2 linked regions of the Homo sapiens genome follow. The protein of the gene in region 1 interacts with the protein of each later gene in a biochemical or structural test. Each region holds a gene or a part of one and is shown on either strand. Other genes may lie near its edges.

What was found.
Region 2: of the proteins of DTX3L (region 1) and H2AZ2, one has a biochemical effect on the other in vitro, tested with the Homo sapiens proteins (one study listed by BioGRID).

The regions. Positions count from the first base shown.
Region 1 is NC_000003.12:122,562,912-122,567,137, reverse strand, and holds the start of DTX3L (E3 ubiquitin-protein ligase DTX3L), read right to left. Parts: upstream 2,801-4,226; 5' UTR 2,712-2,800; coding exon 2,525-2,711; exon of another isoform or gene 2,354-2,524; intron 1,280-2,353; coding exon 1,068-1,279; intron 1-1,067.
Region 2 is NC_000007.14:44,834,783-44,838,087, forward strand, and holds part of H2AZ2 (histone H2A.V), read right to left. Parts: intron 877-3,305; coding exon 747-876; intron 1-746. UniProt on the Homo sapiens protein: Variant histone H2A which replaces conventional H2A in a subset of nucleosomes. Nucleosomes wrap and compact DNA into chromatin, limiting DNA accessibility to the cellular machineries which require DNA as a template.

The DNA of each region.
Region 1 (4,226 bases):
TCTCTCCATTGCTCACTGCCCTCCCCACCACACTGGCTTCCTTAAAGCTTCTGGGCCTCAAAATGTCAGCTCTTGGGGACTTTGCACCTATGCTTCCCTCTAGGACACTTTCCGCCCAGAAATCCACTTGGCTAGAGATGTCACCTCACTTGAGGTTTTTCCAGACATCCTATTTTAAATGGTGGTTCTGTCACTGTCTGTCACTTATTCTTCTTCCTAGCAGGTATGACTGGCAGACATTTTATTATATATCTATTGTTTACTAATATTGTCTGTTTCTCTCTCTAGAAGGTGCCGTCCCTGGAAGCCGAGTCTGCCATGTTCCTGGCTGCCTCCCCAGCTCCTATAACAGTGCCTGGAACACAGTAGGCAGTGGATATCTATTGTTGAATGAATCTTGTCATCATTCAAGTTTCAGGCCAAACATCACCTCCTCAGTCAAGTTGTCTCTGATTTCTGGTTAGAAGTAGCACCAGGCCAGGTGCAGTAATTCATGACTGTAATCCCAGCACTTTGGGAGGCCAAGGCGGGCAGATCGCTTGAGCCCAGGAATTTGAGAACAGCCTGGGCAACATAGTGAGACTCTGTTTCTACAAAAAAAAAAAAAATTGGCTGGGTGTAGTGGCGCCTATAGTCCTAGCTACTCAGGAGACTGAGGTGAGAGGATCCCTTGAGCCCAGGAGGTCAACTCTGCAGTGAGCCATGATTGTGCCACTGTACTCCAGCCTGGGCGATAAAGTGAGACTCTGTCTTGGGGGGAAAAAAAGAAGTAACACCACCCCCATCTTCCCCTTGCTTGCCCTGGCGCTGTTTCTCTCCAAATAAATAAAATGGTTTTATTTATTTTGTTTACTTGCCTACTGTCTTTCTGTGCATGACCTGGCCCCCAGTATAAGCTGCCTGAGAGCAGGGGCCTTGTCTGTTATATTCATCTCTGTGTCCAGTGCCTAAAACAGTGCCTGGCTCCCATGTACGTGCCCAGCACATGGGTGTTGGATCAATAATACATGAGGCTGGTGACTGGAGAGGAGGCGCAGGCACAGCCAGCTCCTTCTTTCAATACTCACCTTTTGGAGACAGGAATCCACAGCATTAGGAATATGTCCTTCATGTTGATGCATATCACCAGACGGTGTTTCTGCTTGTGATTGTGTCAGTGAAGAAATTTGAGGTCTCGTGTTCTTCTTTATTGAATTTTCAGTGGGTACCAGGAAAATGGGCACAGGTTTTTCGTCAACAAGTATTTGGTGCTCTCCTTTTTTCAACACTCTCTCCTTAGCTTCAGTGGAGACATTAAACACACACATATACACACATAAAAATGGGAGAGATTTCAAGTAATCCTCTCATTCCTGTGTCTGTACTCTGCCCCAGCACCTCCCAGTAAGGCTGCTCCCTGCATCCTGGAATGGTGGGTTGGCGATGGAGAAAGTCGGGGAGCTATTAAGAGCTCTAAAGTGTGCGGATTAAGTTTTACTATAGAAGTGAAAGCTTAATGACAATGGAACATTGTCCACCGATTAAACATCATGTTTCTAAAACTGTCTCCAGTCTCCCCTTTCCTTCTTCCTTCTTTCCCTCCCTCCCTCCCTTCCTTCCTTCTTTTTTTTTTTTTTTTTTTTTTTAGACGGAGTCTCACTCTGTCACCCAGGCTGGAGTGCAATGGTAGGACCTCGTCTCACTGCAACCTCTCTGCCTCCCGAGTTCCAGCGATTCTCCTGCCTCAGCCTCCAGAGTAGCTTGGATTACAGGTGCGCACCACCATGCCCGGGTAATTTTTGTATTATTAGTAGAGACGGAATTTCCCCATGTTGGCCAGGCTGGTCTCGAACTCCTGGCCTCAGGTGATCCACCAACCTCGGCCTCCAAAGTGCTAGGATTACAGGCGTGAGCCACCGCACCCGGCCCAGTCTCCCATTTCAATACTCATTATACAGGTAAGTGACAACAGCAGGAATCAAAAGTGCAGACTCCGAATTTTGTAAATATACATGTGTTTGCTGGCATTCATAAAAAAAGGCAGGAAGGAAATACACCAAATGGTCACATTGTTTATCTTCAGGTTGTTTTCTTTTTTACTCTTTTATTTCTATAGTGAGCATATATCACTTTTGTAATCCTCAAAAACACAAAATGGAACATCCTTTTGTTCATGGATGGAACAATGGAACCATTATTTAAAACATAAAAGTGGAATCCCTGAATGACAAGGACAGCAGCTGGCAGGCATCTGGGGGAAGGAAGATGACAGCTGAGAAATTAAGTTAGAATGAGGATATGGAAAGCATCCACACTAAGGCGCCGTCAGCCAGACCCGCACCAGGCACATGTGAGGCCCCATCCTCCACCGAGTGTTCACTGTCTCAGTGAGTCTCTTGGCAGTAGGGCCCCGTCCCTGTCCGCCACCGCACAGTGACATACTTTCTCCCGCCCTCTCCCCTAGGTCAGCTGGAACTGGGTCCGCCTGGAAACCCGGGGGCCGGGCCCCCAGAGGGCTTTCGCAGCCTGGCCGCCCGAAGCTCACCTGCCCTTTCACTGAACTCCACCCGGAAGGTGCCCGGGGCTTCGTGTTCCTGGGTGCTGACCGTGCACTCCCCGCCGCCCGAGGACTTAGAGCTCTGGAAGTAGCTCTCCAGCTTCCTTCGTACTCGGGGGCCGGACTTGTACACCCGCACGAGGAGCGGGGACGGCGGGCGCAGGTGGGAGGCCATGGCTCTGCGCGTCGGGAGGGCGCGGGGGCTCCGGGAGGCAGCTGGGCGGTAAAGGCGCGGCCCGCCCTGCGGACTGGGCGCAAAGTTTCAGTTTCGCTTCCCTGGAGGTCCCTCCCTGTTCCCGGCAGAGCCGCTTCCCCCTCCTCCCTGTGCTGTCTGCACCGAGGAGAGCGGCCTGCCGGGTGAGTAGGTCCGGTGCCTCTGGGCCCTCGGGGTCCCCTCTCCTGCAGGCTCGAGGTGGGCGGGGAGAAGGGGGACGGGCGCGGACCCGGGTCCCAGGGCCAGGCCTCCCTTGTGAGTAGACTATGCAAAGAAAGTAAGTTTCTCCTGTGTTTCTTATTCTTTGTAACTCTTACTGCTGTTACCACTATTATTTGATCCTAAAAAGTAATTCACATTCTGAATCCATGTTAAACTTACCCATTTTTGAAAATTTGAATGTGTTCATCTGGTAATTGTGACCTGTTACCCCTTCCCTCCCTCCAACTCTACCCTTTAGACGGGCTTCTGCGGGCTTTTCTCCTCCATTGCTTGATTTAACCAACAGCACTGAATTGTTTCTTGCTGCCCAAAGAGCAGAGCAAGGCCCTGATGTCAAGGGCTGGTGAGGGGAGGCGGACCTGTGAACCAAGGAGCAAAACTTCTCCAAGGCCTCCAAGGGGAAGTTTCAAGCAGAATCTTAATAAATTGAGTGTGGCGGCGAGATGGGGAGGACAGGATTGGGGGGAAAAGCACCTGAGGCTTAGGGACCACTGTGGTCTGAAGCACAGAGTGGGCCTGGGGCCTGGGAGGAGAGGAGATGGGTGAGGGGATGAAGGAGGGAGAGCCTACCTAGATGGGCACTGTCCAGCAGAAATACAATGGGAGCCAGTAGGTTCATTCTAAAATTTTTGCAGCCATATTTTTTAAAGGATAAAGAAACAGATGAAATTAATTTTAATGATTTTTAGGAAATTTTTAAAGGATAAAGAAACAGATGAAATTAACTGTAATGATGTTATTTAGCTTGACATATCCAAAACTTAATCATTTCAGCATGTAATGAGATTTTTACATTCTTTTTATCATACCACGTCTTTGCAACCCAGTGTTTTTCTTATACTTACATCACATCTCGATTCAGACTGGCCACATGTAGCCTCAGTAGCTATGTGAGGCTGATAGTCCACCCTGGACAGGACATATTTAGATGGTGAAAAGCCTTGAAGAGCAGTGAAGATGACCTGAAGGGCTTTAAGCAGGGAAAGCAAGAAAATGACTTGCCAGATTTGCATTTTAGAAATATGGTGCTGACAACCGTGTGGAGGACACATTTACAAGCAGGGATGAGTGGCGGCAGAGAGGCCTGAGATAAGGTTTTTGCACATGGCTGGTAAGACTGGAAATGGGCCCGTCTTTACTGTGAACAATTTGGCAATACTGTCAGAATTACAACTGCATATACTTTTTGGTTCTGGAGTTCCATTTCTAGGAATTTGTCCCATTGATATATTAGCCCCTGTGTGAAGTGACCTG
Region 2 (3,305 bases), on another chromosome or scaffold:
GCTTTTTTTTTTTTTTTTTTTTGAGATGGCCTCACTTTGTCGCCAATGCTGGGGTGCAGTGGTGTAATCTTGGCTCACTGCGACCTCTGTCCTGGGTTCAAGTGATTCTCCTACCTCAGCCTCCTGAGTAGCTGGGACTACAGGTGTGCACCACCACGCCCAGCTAATTTTTGTATTTTTAGTAGAGATGGGGTTTCACCACGTTGGCCAGGCTGGTCTTGAACTCCTGACCTCGGGTGATCCGGGGCCTCTCAGCCTCCCAAAGTGCTGAGATTACAGGTGTGAGCCACCGTGCCCAGCTGTAACCACAGCTTTCACGAGGTTCTTTGAGGGTTATCCAAAGAAGATTAAGAACCACCAACTTACCTCTCACTTTCATTGATCCTGACCCACTTTTCAAGTGTATTTATTTCAACCCTTTCCAGTGTATGTTATGCAACTTCTCCAACTCATTTTTCAAACACAGTTAAAAAAGTATGGGAAATATGTTAAACATCAGGCTTTAAGTATCATATGAAATTTAGACAAAGAACTGGCTAAAATAAAAATAGCATTACATATGGCTAGAAGGTGAAATATTTATTCAGATCATTATGAAAAGCTTAGAATTGTTATAGATTTAGTATTTATGAAATTAAAGTTTATATGCTTTCTAGTTAACCGATCAAATATACTATATCATTGATCTGAACGATATATTAGTCAGAAAGACCAATAAGAATCAAGGCTTAAGTAGTAATACATACCACCCCCAGCTATGGTAGCCTTGATAAGAGAATCCAACTCTTCATCACCACGGATTGCAAGCTGCAAGTGACGCGGAGTGATACGCTTTACTTTGAGATCCTTAGAAGCATTACCTGCCAGCTCCAGCACCTACAAAGCATCCATGATTAGCATATCAAATGAAGGACCTAGGATCCCAAATGAAGGATCACTTAGCATTTGTACATACAAAATGCACACACAATACATAAACTGATAATATATTTTTCTTTCTTGTATTTCTATAATGCTTTTATAAAGCTCTAATTCATTTAACTTCATTTATATTCATTCTCTGCAACAGAGACACAAACTTGAGCAAAAACCCACTTCTATATAGAAATAAAGGTAAGGACAGGAGATATTACCCCTTAGCCAAGATGCCAGATGTGAACATTTAGAAAAGTCTTTTTTTTTTTTTTTTTTTTTTGAGACAAGGTCTCACTCCATTGCCTAGGCTGGAGTGCAGTGGTGTGATCTTGGCTCACTGCAGCCTTGACCTCCCAAGTGCAGGGTTATTCTCCTGCCCTAGCGTCCTGAGCTGCTGTGACCAGGTGAGCGCCACCAAACCCGGCTTTTTTGTATTTTTGTTTTTTGTAGACACAAGGTTTCCCCACGTTGCCCAGGCTGGTCTCAGACTCCTGTGCTGAAATGATCTGCCCACCTGGGCCTCCCAAAGTGCTGAGATTACAAGTGTGAGCCACCACGCCCAGTCAAAGTCATATATTTTAATATATACTTGTAGACCATTTTTGTACAACCCTTAATAGCTGAAATGTATTTCTTAATGCTTTTAGAAGTTTTCAAATGTATTTTTAAAATTTTTTAAAAATAAAAGAGATGGGACATCATTATGTTGCCAGGGCTGGTGTCAAACCCTTGGCCTCAAGTGATCTTCCTACTTCAGCCTCTCAAAGTGCTGGGATTACAGGTGTACTGGGCCATCGCACTCAGCCTAAAATATAATTTAAAATAATTTCTTTTTTTTGAGATGGAGTCTTGCTGTGTTGCCCAGGCTGCAGTGCAACGGTGTGATCTCAGATCACTGCAACCACCACCTCCCGGGTTCAAACTATTCTCCTGCCTCAGCCTCCCGAGTAGCTGGGACTACAGGCGCCTGCCACCATGCCTGAGTAAGTTTTGTATTTTTAGTAGAGATGGGGTTTCGGCTAGGCGCGGTGGCTCACACCTGTAATCCCAGCAATTTGGGAGGCCGAGAGGGGTGGATCATGAGGTCAGGAGATCGAGACCATCCTGGCTAACACGGTGAAACCCTGTCTCTACTAAAAATACAAAAAATTAGCTGGGTGTGGTGGCAGGCACCTGTAGTCCCAGCTACTCGGGAGGGTGAGGCAGGAGAATGGCGTGAACCCAGGAAGCGGAGCTTGCAGTGAGCCGAGATGGCGCCACTGCACTCCAGCCTGGACGACAGAGCGAGACTCTGTCTCGAAAAGAAAAACAAAAACAAAAACAAAAAACAAAACAACAAAAAAAACAGACACAGGGTTTCACCATATTGGCCAGGCTGGTCTCAAATTCCTGACCTTGACTCCGTCTCAAAAAAAATAAAAAAATCAAACTCCTGACCTTGTGATCTGCCCGCCTTGGCCTCCCAAAGTGTTGGGATTACAGACGTGAACCACTACGCCAGGCCACCTCCTCGTTTTAAATAGAGCAGTGTTGGGTATACAGGAGAATCAACTGCTGAACTTTAAAAATACAAAAATCAGCAAGGTGTGGTGGCACACGCCTGTAATCCCAGCTACTTGGGAGGCTGAGGCAGGAGAATCGGTTGAACCCAGGAGGTGGAGGTTGCAGTGAGCCGAGATTGAGCCACTGAACTCCAGCCTGGGCGACAGAGCAAGACTCTCAAAAAAAAAAAAAAGAAAAAAAAAAAAAAAAAAAAAGTTGACTGCACCCACACATTCATTGTCCAATCTTAACCTAAATTGTTTTTTTTTTTTGAGACATGGTCTCACTGTCATGCAGGCTGGAGTGCAGTGGTGCAATCATGGCTCACTGCAGCCTCAACCTCCTGGGTCAGGTAATCATCCCACCTCACCCTCTCCACTAGCTGGGACTACAGGTGCACACTATCACATCTGGTCAATTTTTTGTATTTTTTTGTAGAGACAGGGTTTTGCCATGTTGTCCAGGCTGGTCTGGAAGTCCTGGACTCAAATGATCTGCCCACATTGACCTCCCAAAGTGCTGAGATTACAGGCATGAGCCACTGTGTAAACTTTAAAAATTTTAACCAAAGTTCCCAAAGATTTAAAAAAAAGGGGGGGGGGGCTTAGATAGATGGGGCTTGAACCTTGTGAACCACAATGTTCAATGTAAGACACCACACCCAGCCAAAGTCATATATTTTAATATATCTATGTGGTCTATTTCTGCAGAACCTTTAATAGCTGAAATTTCTTTTTTTTTCTTTTTTTTAAGACGGAGTCTCGTTCTGTCGCCAGGCTGGAGTGCAGTGGCGCGATCTCGGCTCGCTGCAACCTCTGCCTTCTGGGTTCAAGCAATTCTCCTGCCTC